Linked DNA regions of Homo sapiens: region 2 is reported to be linked to region 1. Evidence: microRNA targets listed by miRTarBase, many of them from high-throughput screens and not tested one by one. Region 1 holds a microRNA gene; the other region holds the end of a gene's coding sequence.
Evidence for each region. The annotated mature microRNA hsa-miR-4774-3p reads AUUGCCUAACAUGUGCCAGAA and lies in region 1 at 1,395-1,415, shown strand. An mRNA with a match to its seed (bases 2 to 7 or 8) in the 3' UTR can be bound and repressed. Matches are read on the target gene's strand: a 7mer-m8 pairs with bases 2 to 8, a 7mer-A1 pairs with bases 2 to 7 and ends in A, and an 8mer does both.

Region 2: miRTarBase lists TUBGCP5 as a target of hsa-miR-4774-3p. Seed matches in the 3' UTR shown: 7mer-A1 at 2,526-2,532.

Annotation. Positions count from the first base shown.
Region 1 is chr2:168,581,595-168,584,594 of GRCh38, forward strand. It overlaps MIR4774 (microRNA 4774), which reads left to right and starts at 1,349; the gene lies at 1,349-1,424. All of the region lies in intron 3 of CERS6 (ceramide synthase 6), which reads left to right.
Region 2 is chr15:22,996,991-23,000,521 of GRCh38, forward strand. It overlaps TUBGCP5 (tubulin gamma complex component 5), which reads right to left. Exons shown (of 23, transcript NM_052903.6): 23 at 2,187-2,876. The coding sequence ends at 2,830. Among named protein-coding and RNA genes, the nearest start is that of CYFIP1, 18 kb to the left of the region's middle.

The DNA of each region.
Region 1 (3,000 bases):
TAATATATATTTTTATTTATAAAAGTTCTGTTTCATCTTTTAAAAACCTGCTTGTTCAGTTTTCATAGTTTCCTGTTCTTTGCAGATACTTTTTATGTGGTCTTTTATTTTTTTACATAGGGGAAGCATAGTTGTTTTACAATCTGTATTTGACAGTTCCAGTATTTGCGGGTGTGTTTCTGATTCTGATTCATGGAACCTGTTTTTCCTTGTGTGCTTAATTGTGTACTACTCTTTGTTCTTAGGAAATATTAAGGAGGGAGAATCTTGAGGCCTAGGAAGATGATGATTCTCTCAGAGAGTTTATGCTTATGCTCCTGTCCGGCATGGACGATACCCCAGCCCAGGATCACCCCAGACCAAGCACATGACTTACCATGACTCCCAGGCCCACCTGGGCTAACTCCCCATGACCGTAACCACCTTGGTCATGATCACAGTTGTGGGTCTCTTACCACAACTTCTCATGGTGTTATTTTCCTTTCCCTTTTTCTCTTCTTCTGCTTAGTGTCAAGGCAACCATCCCTGAAGTTTCCCAGAATTGGGGGTAGAGGTAGGGTTTATGTATGGCACACACTCATCCTATGGATGTTATATCTTGGGGTCCCAGCTTAATATGCGCAGTGTCTTCTATAATATCCTCCACATTAGGTAGGCACTGGGCCTAGATTCTTCCCCCTTTCCTCCAGGGGCTGCCAAAACAGAAACCCAGATTAACTCATGGTGGAGATGCCTTTGGGCCAGAAGGAGCTGTGGTGTTCTACTTAGGTCTCTGGGTTCCTAGTTTCCCTTAGATTTTTATCCTGAGAGCTTCTTACTATCTTGTCACCTCTGATGCTTTTAAGGATATTTTTTAAGTTGAGAAGTTTAGTTGTTTTAAATAGAGAGCAAGGGGTTTGTCTGACTAGCCTAGCCTGCTGTGTCTGGGAAAGGAAGTATTAATAAGACCTTAAATCATTTAATAACTATCATCTAGTACTGAAAAAAAAACGCGTGCTATGCAAACATAAGGTTTCAAATGTGGTCAGTCAGGATTTTGAAAACTAGAATTTTCATACACCTTTATTTTACGTGATGCATTATTTTAATATTGATGTGAAGTTAAACAAGGTCAGTTTGACCTTGTGTCCAGTGCAATTCCCAAATTTGACTGCTGCAGTTTACTGAAATTGCATACATACAACAGCTTTAGGTGCCTGGATTCACAGTGAGCTAGTGAAATAGCTGGTGATTTCATAGTGAGCCAGTGAAATAGCCATCCTTCCCAAGCACCCACAGTGTACAGTTATGGTATAGAGGGGCCTTGATGGGCATGGCCTTTGAAAGACATGAAAGCTATAGATTAGCCTATATTGTTGTCTGGTATGTAGTAGGTAATAACTGACAAACAGACAATTGCCTAACATGTGCCAGAAAACAACATAGGCAAGGCTTGCAGTTACAAAATAATGCATAGACAAATGTACATTTAATCAAATTTGGCTGGCTTGAGGGAATGGTTGATATACACAGCACAGACTGATCAATTTGGTAGTGTTAAGCAGAAAATCGCTCTTATAGGACAAGAATCTTGTAAAATTTTGAACCTTAGAAATATGCACTAATGACAGTGTGGTGTAGGAATAGATAGTGATGGGGAGGGCGTCGAGACAGGTACAAATAAGTAGTGTGTGTTGATTGACGGGCATGTCCTTTTGGCAAAGAGAGACTCCACCAAGAAAGTGATTGGGAAATGAGCTAAGAAAAGTGTGAGAGAAGAAGACACTTCAGTTCTGACATTCAAGAAACAGCCCCACTCTGATTTGGATAGGGGCAAAGCCTAACTATAGATCATTTTTCAGCCAACTACAGAATCTTTTTAGCTTTCCTTGCTTCTTTTTCATTTGCTTTCTCTTTCGAATTTGAGGAGTAGATTGCAGTTTAACCACATGCTATGAGCTCAGGCCTCTTGGGTGGCCTCCCTGGGTCTTAGACCAAACCAGTCATTAGGCTTTTAGAGAATAATTTTAAAATGCCATCCCTTAATATTGTCAGGGTTGTTTGAACTATGAGAAGAAGATAATGAGCATGAAGCAGGACCTTTAGAGGACTAGGTTGTCTGGAGTTTGTAGTTAGTTGAAAGGCTACAGGGTCCATTTATTCCTGTAATTTTATTTGCCTTCCTGCTCTGATGTATCATTATTTGTCATCCATGGATATGGAATTCATTCTATCATTCAATAAAATGAATGCTGACTCTGTGCTGGCTGCTTTTCGAGGCCTTGTGAATATTCTCTGTTTGGCGATTATTGTAATGGCCTTTTGCCATCATGACCTGGCCTTTTGCCATCATGACAGCATCTGACATGTACTGACATGTACTGAATACTTAGAATGTACCAAGATCGCTTCCTTAGTCATCTTATTTAATCCTTCCAACACTCTCATTGGGTAGATGATTTTACCCTAATTTTCAAAAGGTTAAGCAGTTTACCCACGATAGGTAGTGAGAGTCAGGATCTGTGTGTGACTGGCCCTAATGCCTATGCTTCCTAAGTAATTTCCTAAGTAATCAAAGCTGCTTTTAAGATTAACTTTCTCCAAAGATGCAGGTATTGCTCATTCCTTTTTTATAGCTGAGTCACAGACATAATGAATACTGCCAGTGAGCTGCAGTGAAACTGTATCTTTAAAAGAAAAATGTTTTTTAGGTTTCTCAATTCCCATGTTTTTGCTGTTTGCGTGATACCCCTCTGTGGAAATTAACAAACCTTTTGCTGTTGGTTTTTCAGTAATATCTATCTACATAGAAAAACTTCACAGTGGAATCTGTTTGTGTAATATGTGTGAGAGAGAGAAAGACAGACATAATGCTGTCATGATTAGTAAGCCATGACCAAACTGTATGTGCACATACACACAGCTTCTGTGGGTCTCACTGAGACTAAATTTGGCCACACATTCCCTAATTTATTTTTACACAATTTCCCTGTTTCACTGTAGACCTTTTCCCTAACATCA
Region 2 (3,531 bases), not on the chromosome of region 1:
TACTAATTTAAAATGCCTTCATACACTCTGAACATAGTTACTTCTGGACACCCTGGGCAACAGTGGTTGCCTCTGGGCATGACATGGTTCCTGAAAGGGGCTAAGGGGAAATGTTCTCTCCCAGTCTGTGGCCTGTATTACCATTTTCCTAGCAATGTTTTTTGGTGATGTCCAATTCACCAATAATTCCTTTTTTTTTTTCCTTTTGAGACGGAGTCTTGCTCTGTCACCCAGGCTGGAGTGCAGTGGTGTGATCTCGGCTCACTGCAACCTCTGCCTCCCAGGTTCAAGCGATTCTCCTGTCTCAGCCTCCTGAGTAGCTGGGACTACAGGTGTGCGCCACCACGCCCGGCTGATTTTTGTATTTTTAGTAGAGACGGGGTTTCCCCATATTGGTCAGGCTGGTCTGGAACTCTTGACCTCAGGTGATCCACCCACCTTGACCTCCCAAAGTGCTGGGACTGCAGGCATGAGCCACCGTGCTCGGCCCCTTTTTTGATTTTATGTAAGAAATCTTTGTCTACCCCAAGTTTGTAGTGTTAATTTCCCATGTTTGCTTCTAGAAGCTTTCTAGTCCTAACTTCCACATTTTGTTGTTTCCAGTTCTAGCTTTCATATTTTTTTTCTTTTTCTTATTTTTTTCTGAGACAGAGTCTCGCTCTGTCGCCCAGGCTGGAGTGCAGTGGCATGATCTCAGCTCACTGCAACCTCCGGCCACCCAGGTTCAAGCAATTCTCTGGCCTCAGCCTCCTGAGTAGCTAGGATTACAGGTGTGTGCCACCACGCCCAGCTAATTTTTGTATTTTTAGTAGAGACAAGGTTTCACCACATTGGTCAGGCTGGTCTCGAACTCCTGACCTCATGATCCACCCACCTTGGCTTCCCAAAGTGCTGGGATTGCAGGCATGAGTCACTATGTGTGGCCTTTTTTTTTTTTAAAGATAGTCTCACTCTATAAAAAGAAAATATGGAAAAATTTAATAGTAAGCATAATTCTATTCAAAATATAACTGGTTAGCTCACAAAAATTGCTCAGAAATATTGCCAGGCACAGTGGCTCACGCCTGTAATCCCAGCACTTTGGGAGGCTAAGGCGGGTGGATCACCTGAGGCCAGGAGTTCGACACCAGTCTGGCCAACAAGGTGAAACCCTGTCTCTACTAAAAATACAAAAATTAGCTGGGCGTGGTGGTGCACGCCTGAGATCCCAGCTACTCGGGAGGCTGAGGCAGGAGAATCACTTGAATCCAGGAGGCAGAGGTTGTAGTGAGCCGAGATCGTGCTACTGCACTGCAGCCTAGGTAACAGAGTGAGCCTCCACATTTCAAAAAACAAGGAAATACCAAACAATAGTATGTACCAACAGTTGGCCCTAAGTGAAGTTGGCCTTTTACATTTATCGCTATCAGTTGAAGCTATTTTCCATGTAGAACTTCTCAGGCACAACAAAACATATATACATTTCTTTCTTTCTTTTTTTTTGTTGGAGACAAGGTCTTGCTCTGTTGTCCAGGCTGGAGTGCAGTGATGCAATCATGGTTCACTGCAGCCTTGACCTCCCGGTCTCAATCGATCCTCCCACCTCAGCCTCCCAAGTAGCTGGGACCACAGGCATGTGCCACCATGCTTGGCTAATTTTTTTTTTTCGGAGTCTTGCTCTGTCACCCAGGATGGAGTGCAGTGGTACAATCTAGGCTCACCGCAACCTCTGCCTCCTGGGTTCAAGTGATTCTCCTGCCTCAGCCTCCCAAGTAGCTGGGATTACAGATGTGGGCCACCACACCTGGCTAATTTTTTTGTATTTTTAGTAGAGACGGGGTTTCACCACATTGGCCAGGCTGGTCTTGAACTCCTGACCTCAGATGATCCGCCCACCTCGGCCTCCCAAAGTGCTGGGATTACAGGGGTGAGCCACCGTGCCCAGCCCTTGGCTAATTTTTAAGTTGTTTTTGGAGAGATGGGGTCTCATATGTTGCCTAGGCAGGTCTTAAACTGCTGGCCTCAAGGAATCCTCTCACCTCAGTCTTTCAAAGTGCCAGGATTACAAGCTTGAGAAACTACACCCAGCCAAAATATAAACATTTCTAGGACAGCTACATCTAAGACAACTTTTAGGGAAGACAACATGTAAAACTCTATATAAAAAGCTTCTGTGACTGTAGGACAGCAGCAAAAGGATAATAAAATGATTTTAAGTCCTTTAATTTATTTTGAATATCAGTAATTACATTTTCAAAATATGATATAATTTAAAGGTATCAGTACCATAAATCTGTATCTTACAGTAGGAAATGTAAGAGTAAACAGCCTATATACACTTTGTACTACTGACACAATTTTATGTATACAACTCTATACAGTATCTACTAATCTCCAGAAAACCCACCTACAATCCATCTGTCTGGACTGTGGGCAAGTGGTTCTTTCTGAGTCAGGGTCTCACTCTGTCACCCAGGTTGCACTGCAGTAGTGCAATCATGGCTCACTGTAGCCTTGACCTCCTGGGCTCAAGTAATCCTCCCATCTTTGCCTCCTGAGTAGCTGGGACTACAGGTACACACCACCATGTCTGGATACATTTTGTATTTTTGGTAGACACCGGGTTTCACCATGTTGCCCAGGCTGGCCTCAAACTCCTGGGCTCAAGTGATCTGCCTGTCTTGGCCTCCCATCGTGCTGGGATTAGAGGCATGAGCGACTGTGCCAGGCTGACTGTGGACAAGTTTTACAAATAAACCAAAATAAAAATATTTTCACTTTTCAGCTGCACATGGTGGAAATGTACATGTATGATGACAAAGTCGGAGATATTTATTACGCTGAAGACATTTAACTTTGTTCCATGCCAGCCATGAGTGACAACGCTAGAGATTCCACTGTGGGAAGAATAAAAATAAGGTTAAAACAATAGGTTTAAATGTTGAAAAAAAATTTTTTTTGAAGACGGAGTCCCACTGTCACCCAGGCTGGAGTGCAATGGTACAATCTCAGCTCACTGCAACCTCTGCCTCCCGGGTTCAAGCAATTTTCCTGCCTCAGCCTGCTGTGTAGCTGGGATTTCAGGCATGTGCCACCATGCCTAGCTCATTTTTGTATTTTTAGCAGAGACAGGGTTTTGCCATGTAGGCCAGGCTGGTCTTCCAACTCCTGACCTTAAGTGATTCACTCAACCTCCCAAAGGGCTGGGATTAGAGGCATGAGCCACCGCGCCAGGCCAGGAGCTTTAAATTCCTAAAAAAATTTTTAAAAAGACTAGATTTTGAAAAGAAATAGTTACAAAAACTACACGATAGTGAAGTGTGACAGAAATCTATTCTGCCATCAACTTTATTTAATAGGAGTTTTAGAAATCTGTTGTAATAAATGGTATACCAGAAAGTAAGATCCTCAGGCTTACACTCACCTCACCGTAATGCTTAAAAAGCAATTCAAAGCATGGGACAACTGCTAAGGGACTTTTCAGTTTTGAAAATGGTGAGAATTTCTAATTCTTCATGGGATCAGTAACAAAACAATGACACATACACTTAG